2 linked regions of the Homo sapiens genome follow. The protein of the gene in region 1 interacts with the protein of each later gene in a biochemical or structural test. Each region holds a gene or a part of one and is shown in the gene's direction. Other genes may lie near its edges. The genes, in order: NANOG and PRKCE.

The links.
Region 2: of the proteins of NANOG (region 1) and PRKCE, one has a biochemical effect on the other in vitro, tested with the Homo sapiens proteins (one study listed by BioGRID).

What each region holds. Positions count from the first base shown.
Region 1 is NC_000012.12:7,795,850-7,799,669, forward strand, and holds the end of NANOG (homeobox protein NANOG), read left to right. Parts: 3' UTR 1-3,297; downstream 3,298-3,820. UniProt on the Homo sapiens protein: Transcription regulator involved in inner cell mass and embryonic stem (ES) cells proliferation and self-renewal. Imposes pluripotency on ES cells and prevents their differentiation towards extraembryonic endoderm and trophectoderm lineages.
Region 2 is NC_000002.12:46,147,954-46,151,773, forward strand, and holds part of PRKCE (protein kinase C epsilon type), read left to right. Parts: intron 1-3,087; coding exon 3,088-3,276; intron 3,277-3,820.

The sequences.
Region 1 (3,820 bases):
TACCGTTTTTGGCTCTGTTTTGCTATATCCCCTAATTTGTTGGTTGTGCTAATCTTTGTAGAAAGAGGTCTCGTATTTGCTGCATCGTAATGACATGAGTACTGCTTTAGTTGGTTTAAGTTCAAATGAATGAAACAACTATTTTTCCTTTAGTTGATTTTACCCTGATTTCACCGAGTGTTTCAATGAGTAAATATACAGCTTAAACATAAATCTTTGTTAAATTTTTGGTTGGGGTGGAGAAGGAAATTAGCTGAGGACACTGCTATCTTAGAAATGCATAGAAATAGCTGAGCGTGGTGGCCTATGCCTGTAGTCCCAGCTATTTGGGAGGCTGAGGCAGGAGAATCGCTTGAACCTGGTAGGTGGAGGTTGTAGTGAGCCAATATCACACCACTGCACTCCAGCTTGGGCGACAAGAGCAAAACTCCCATCTCAAAAATAAATAAATAAATAAGTAAATAAATGAATAATAAATAAATATGCCAGTTTTAGAATGAATGAATAATAAATATGCCAGTTTTAGAAAAAAGGGCACTTACGTGCATTGTACATGTGCATCTACAAATGTAATGGGTTATTTCCGTGTATGAATCTGTAATTGATGCTAACATTTAAAGTTTCATCAGAGGCCTATATGTAAGTAAATTCTAAGGCTAGTTGAAACAGATTTATGTTCTCACCTTAAGAGCAGCTACGCAGGCATCTGTGAATTATACTAATAATCCTTTACTGTCCTTTTCCCATCTTGTGCCTGCCCTAAATGTATCTGATCTGAGAGCACGTCCCTTCACTCTGAAGCAGCATGATGCAGGTTATCAGAGTGGTTTTTTCCAGTCTTTTCTCTCATTATTTCCCCAATTGTCCAATGTTACTAAGACTATCCAGTCTAATTCCAAGTGTTTTTTTTTTGTTTTATTTTGTTTTTTTTTAAGACTGGAGTCTTACTCTGTTGCCCAGGCTGGAGTGTAGTGGAGCGATCTCGGCTCACCGCAACCTCCGCCTCCCGAGTTCAAGTGATTCTCCTGCCTCAGCCTCCCAAGTAGCTGGGACTACAGGGGTGAGCCACCATGCCCAGCTAATTGTATTTTTAGTAGAGACAGGGTTTCACTATGTTGGCCAGGCTGGTCTTGAACTCCTGACCTCATGATCCACCAGCCTTGGCCTCCCAAAGTGTTGGGATTACAGGCGTGAGCCACTGCGCCTGGCCTATCGTTTGTTTTTTTAGACAGTCTCTCTCTATTGCCCAGGCTGGAGTGCAGTGGCACAATCTTGGCTCACTGCAACCTCCGCCTCCTGGGTTCGAGCAATTCTCCTGCGTCAGCCTCCTAAGTAGCTGGGATTACAGGCACCCAACATTACACCCGGCTAATTTTTGGTATTTTTAGTAGAGATGGGGTTTCACCATGTTGGCCAGCCTGGTCTCGAACTCCTGACCTCAGGTGATCCACCTGACTCGGCCTCCCAAAGTGGTGGGATTATAGGTGTGAGCCACCGTGTCTGGGCAATTTTTTTTTTTTTTTTTGAGATGGAACTTCACTTTTGTTACTCAGGCTGGAGCACAATGATGCAATCTCTACTCACTGCAACCTGCACCTCCCAGGTTCAAGTGATTCTCTTGCCTCAGCCTTTCGAGTGGCTGGTATTACAGGGATTTGCCACTATGCCCAGCTAATTCTTTGTATTTAGTAGAGATGGGGTTTCACCGTATTGACCAGGCTGGTCTCGAACTCCTGACCTCAGGTAATCCACCCTCCTCGGTCTCCCAAAGTGCTAGGATTACAGGCATGAGCCACAGTGCCCAGCCTTCTTTTTTATTTTTTTAAGACGGGCTTATTCTGCTGCTCAGACTGGGGCTTAGTGGCACCATTTCACCTCACTGTAGCCTCGACTTCCCGGATTCAAGCAATCCTCCTGCCTGAGTCTCTCAAATAGCCCAGACTATAGGTGCACACCACCATGCCAGCTAACTTTTGTGTTTTTAGGAGAGACGGGGTTTCCCCATGTTGGCCTGGCTAGTCTCAAACTCCTGAGCTCAAGCAGTCTACCAGCCTTGGCCTCCCGAAGTGCTGAGATTACAGGCATGAGTCACCAGCCTAGCCCTGTATTATGTTTTCTGAACTTTTTTTTTTTTAATCACCCAGTATTAATCTTCAACCTCTTGGCAGGTAAGAATTTAGAGATCTATTTGGAATAATCTTTAAAGTAACAATAATAACTACAGTCAAAAGCAGTAAGATTAGTGGGCCAGGTGCCGTGGCTCACACCTGTAATCCCAGCACTTCGGGAGACCAAGGCAGGTGGATCACCTGAGGTCAGGAGTTCAAGTTTAGCATGGCCAATATGGCGAAACCCTGTCTCTACTAAAAATACAGAAATTTGCCAGAGGTCTTGGTTTGCGCCTGTAATCTCAGCTACTTGGAAGGCGGAGGCAGGATAATCACTTGAACCCGGGAGGTTGCAGTGACCCCAGATAATGCCACCCCACTCCAGCCTGGGCGACAGAGCGTCACTGTCTCAAAAATAAACAAAAATAATAGGAGATTAGGCAAAAAGGATAGTACAAGGCTCTCTGTTTAACATTTCTTCCTTTCTCTAGAAAATTTTCCTTTCTTTTCCCAAAAGGAGGTGTGTGTTACTTCCAATGCTATATTTTAGTAGCTTTACCATATTTTAGTTTTTAAAATTCATTATTTTGATTTCTCAGCTTTCATTTTCATTTCAGTTTGTACCTGAAGGAGAGAAGCATGGATTGAATTTGCCTGGGTTTTCCGAATTTCATAATATAAATTTAAAACTCAGAAGTGGGAGGAATACAGGCCTTGATTAGTGAATTTCAAGCTCAGTTCTCGGGGTGAAGGACAAGGTTAATTCTACTCTGAGTAATTCTACCGTTCAGAAAACCTGGTGTGTCTACAGGAAAAAATACAGGCTGTGACTACAAACCTAAAAGTAAAGGCAAACAACTGCCAGACAGAGGCAGGAAAGTGGGGGAGAGCCCTTGGTAAATATTGCATGCCTCCTGGGGCCCCCATGGGCTTTGACTCAAGGGGGAGATGAAGGGAATTTGTTAAAGAAAGAAGTCACTGGGACAGACAAAAGCTTCCGGCACAGGAAGTTAGTTCGACTAAGGATACCGAAATGTAGGAATTTGAATGGGTTCCTGGGTGTGAGGTTGAAGTGAAACTTGATTGAAAAGAAGCTGCTGGTGGTGAGTCTCTCCTTAAGCTATTCCTGGCTTCTGGGTAGTTGGTGTAAACTCTGTGGTCCTTGAATAAAGTGTGCTTGAGAATTTTAGAAGGTTAAGCATCTGAGAAATTACTTCAATGCAGTGGTAGCACTACCTCTGATGATACTACCAAGCAAACTATTAAGAAACAGAAAAGCTCACAGATCAAATTAAGATGCTAGAATCGTATTAAATCAATTAAATACATGGAACAAAACAGGCAAAAAGATGGGATACATTAATCCATTTAGGATAAGGTGCATGTGGAGTAGAAAGGGTAGCAGTGTTTACATGTCCTCTGATAACACTGGCGTAGTCACAAGAGCTAAGGACAAGAACCAAGGGTGAGAATTTGAGATTCAATTAGGGCCAGGGATCTGCAGAACAGATGTACCTGGAACATGGGTGTCAATGTGCTCTTATCAGAGAGACAAAGGGGCAGTTATTCCTGGCCACGAAAGTAGTTCTTGGCTCATTGAGCAGCTATGAAATCTATTTGCAGGCCAGGCATGGTGTCTCAAGCTTATAATCTTAACACTTTGGGAGGCCAAGGTGGGTGGATCACCTGAGGACAGGAGTTCAAGACCAGCC
Region 2 (3,820 bases), on another chromosome or scaffold:
AGCTGCTTTGAGAATCTAATGAGATTAGAGCATGGAAATGCTTGAGAAAGCAGAAGCCTCCATTCAAATGGGAGAGGTGGTAAGGTGCTGAGCTAACCTCAAAACCAGAGACAGCTTTGGAGGCATGAGGTCTGCCCCAAGGCTTATCTTCCTGCCACATGATATGCCCCATGGCACCCCCTCTGCTTTCCCACTCCCAGCCCCTGCTTCCCAGGAAGTGGCCACCAGCCTTTGGTAATAGCATCATCAGGGCCAATGCCTTCTCCCTTCTCCCTTCTCCCGAGCTCTGACGCACTTGAGGGGTTGGCTCCAGGTGACTTCCCGTGACATGGAAGCCTTGCCCTTCTGCCCAGATCCACTGCCGACAGTTAATTAGGAAGCAGATAATTAGAGCCAAGCCTAAAAGGAATCTTACAAAAGATGCCACCCAAAATGAGAAGGCTGTGGAAGGGGCCTGGAGTGGGGTGGCAGGGCGGCTCTGTGGTTTCCACAGCACCATCCAGTCTCAGCACACACAAGCCACCTTCTCCCCACCCCCTGAAGGCACAGAACCCAGCTGCCTCCTTCCGAGAAGCTGGAGGGCAGCCACTGTAGCACCCAGTGTGCCCTGAGGCTAGAAGAGAAGGGAGCATGCCCAGTAGATACACACAGTGGCCATGCATGCTAGCCAGTCACAAGATGTTGACTGTCTCCTGGATGATAGAACAGGCTGGCCACAGCACTGGGCTCAGTAGCATGTTACAGCTCCTACCCTCTGGTACCTTATAGTTGCACTGGGGAGACCGCTGGCCATGAAAAAATAACTAACGACGTAGTGGTATGTGGAAAGTGAGAAAGTGCCTGCAACTCGTAGGAACAGGCAGGGGTCTTAAGTTGGGCGCTGTGTCTTTTGAGGTTGAGGGAGGAGTTGGCATTGGCTTTGGAGCATAGCAGAATCACTGGCTCCTCAGGACAGTGGAGCCCATAGCTTTGACCTTACAGCTCAAGGAACACTAACCACTGGGCTTAGACCAAAGGTATTAGCTAAACAGATTACCAGCCCCAAGTAATGTAGAGTTGGCTGCATTTTCTCAAATTCCTTTTCATTCCAAATTCAGAAGATTCTAAACTGTGAGTGTTTTAACTGTTTCTAAATGCTTCTTCTATCCAAATCTTTCTAGTTCATCCTAAGCAATTTGTAACCTCTAGAAGGGTATTTTGAGCAGACCACAGAAAGTCCAGATACTTGAATTCAGCCTCCTCTTCCCTGGCCACCATGAAATCTGAGAACTAAATTGGAGCCTTGTCCCCAGCCTGAGATATTATCTGCCCAAGGTGTCCCATGGGCTGGAATGACTAGGCATGAACTTTGCCTTTTTTTTTCAGGGTCCTCAAAGTGTTCCCCCTTGCAGGATATGCACTCCAACCTTGTTTCTCCTTCCCTTTTTAAAATTCTTTATAGAATTATGGACCTGGATAGGTCATCTCATCCACCCTCCTGTTTCTGGGCAGAGCCATGCCTAATCCCACTCTAATAAGAAGAGAAAATAATTGTGGAATGGGAATGTCACCTCATGATCTCTTCCTTGTAGAGTGGACAGCTCAGCATTTATTTTTCCTCTGAGCCAAACACATCATTGATCTGCTACATATTTATTTTATTTATATATGTTATATTTTAAAGGCATACTGTAAAATACAAAGCTCTATACAGCTGAAAGGTGATATTAAATTCTAGTCTTTTCTATTGGATGTCATCTCCATATATATATATATGTATTTTTATATATATGTATTTATATATATGTATTTATATATATATGTCATTGACATGCTACATATTTATATGTGCGTGTGTGTGTATCATGTATTTATGACATATGTGTATGGAGAGCAGATCAAATAGAATAGCCAATCAGAAAAGATCCTTTTTTTTTTTTTTGAGATAGGGTCTCACTCTGTTACCCAGGTTGAAGTGCAGTCGCATGATTATGACTCACTACAGCCTCAAACTCCCGGGCTCAAGTGATTTTTCCACCTCAGCCTTCTGAGAAGGTGAGACTACAGACACGTACCACCATGCCCAGCTAATTTTTTTTAAGAGACAGGGTCTTACCATGTTGCCCAGGCTGGTCTCGAAGTCCTGGACTCAAGTGATCCTCCCACCTCAGCCTCCCAAAGTGCTAGGATTACAGGTGTGAGCCATTGCGCCCAGCCAGAAAAGATGTCTTGTATTCAGTAGCATCATGTCATACATGCATTTAATCTAAGTGAATTTGACTCTACATATTTGGCTAGAGGAAAAAGAGAGACAGCATAGATAAGACAAGTGACCATTGTCAAAGACAAAATGCACCAGACAATCAAGGAGATGGTTCGATTCTGGCTATTGCAATAGGGGGTTCATTAGTGAAGGTGGCCCCAAAGGAAGGGGGCCTACGGTTTTGTAGAGGCAGGCAAAGTGGGGGATTCTTCAGTGGATCTTATGGGAATCATGATGAACAATAGAGATGGGTTTTTTCTTAGAATATGCAAGAGTATAGTGGTCCTTTATAGGGAGACCATTACAGGGTGGGGGAGACTTATTCATTGCAGTTTCCTCTCCAGGAGCACAGGGCTCAGGTAAATTGAGTGTTGCACCATTTAAAGAAGACCTCTGCTCACCTTTCCACTCAGGCAGTGAGCTGTGCCCTGGACTGTGTGAGATGGGAGACCTGACCTCGCTGCACTCTGAGTCACTTACAGCTTGTTCTCTCAGTATGCATCGTGCTCCCCTGACCCTGATTTTAGTGTCAAAATATGCAGTTTTTTAAAATGTGGCCCTCATGCCAGTCAGGAACTTTATCTGGTGCTCAAAGAAATAGGAATTTGTTCCCACTGGAAGACAGACTGTCGATGTTGACTTTGGAAAGATGATAGCTGGCCCCCAGCATAGTGCCTCCAAACTCAACTGTCACTGAATTTGCTGATTTAGAACTTCTAGGACTAGGACTCAACTGTAGGGAGGAGCAAGTTGGAATTGAAGTCCTTCCCATGGGCGTTCGTAGCACGGGTGTCACTGGGGTGGGAGCCTTTGATGGTGCCTGACATTGCTGGTTTCCTGAACAGATCCTGCAGGAGTTGGAGTATGGCCCCTCCGTGGACTGGTGGGCCCTGGGGGTGCTGATGTACGAGATGATGGCTGGACAGCCTCCCTTTGAGGCCGACAATGAGGACGACCTATTTGAGTCCATCCTCCATGACGACGTGCTGTACCCAGTCTGGCTCAGCAAGGAGGCTGTCAGCATCTTGAAAGCTGTGAGTCACTGCCCCTCACCCATGGCTGTGCTCTCCTGGGCTCCTCCCCCTACACACACACACACACACACACACACACACACACACACACACACTCCCTTCTCCCTTTCTCTGTCCAGCTTTCTCCCTCCCACCTCTGCTCATCACCACGGAATGGGAAGGATTAAGGGCAGTTGCCACTGGGAGTTCAGGCACAGTGCAGAGGACTGCTGCCAAGAGAATGGGGCCTGAGATGACTTGCTCTTCTGGTGGGAAGAGGAGCGCATGTCTGTGCTTCCTGAGATGAGGCACTGTGTACATCTGTGTCCTCCAGCATTTCAGAGGGAACAGAAGCAACTCAACTGTGCTGACATCACCTCTGCCACTTCCATACCTTCCTTACCTGTGGCCTGTCTTCATCAGGGACCTGTGATGGAGAACAGAGAGGAGGGGAGGGAGGGTGGGCACCGCCCACCTGTGTCCACGACAGCATCACTGTGGCTCAAGAGCCAATCAGAAAAGATCTGGTACACTGGAAATTCATGCAGTCCTGCTGGATTTAGAT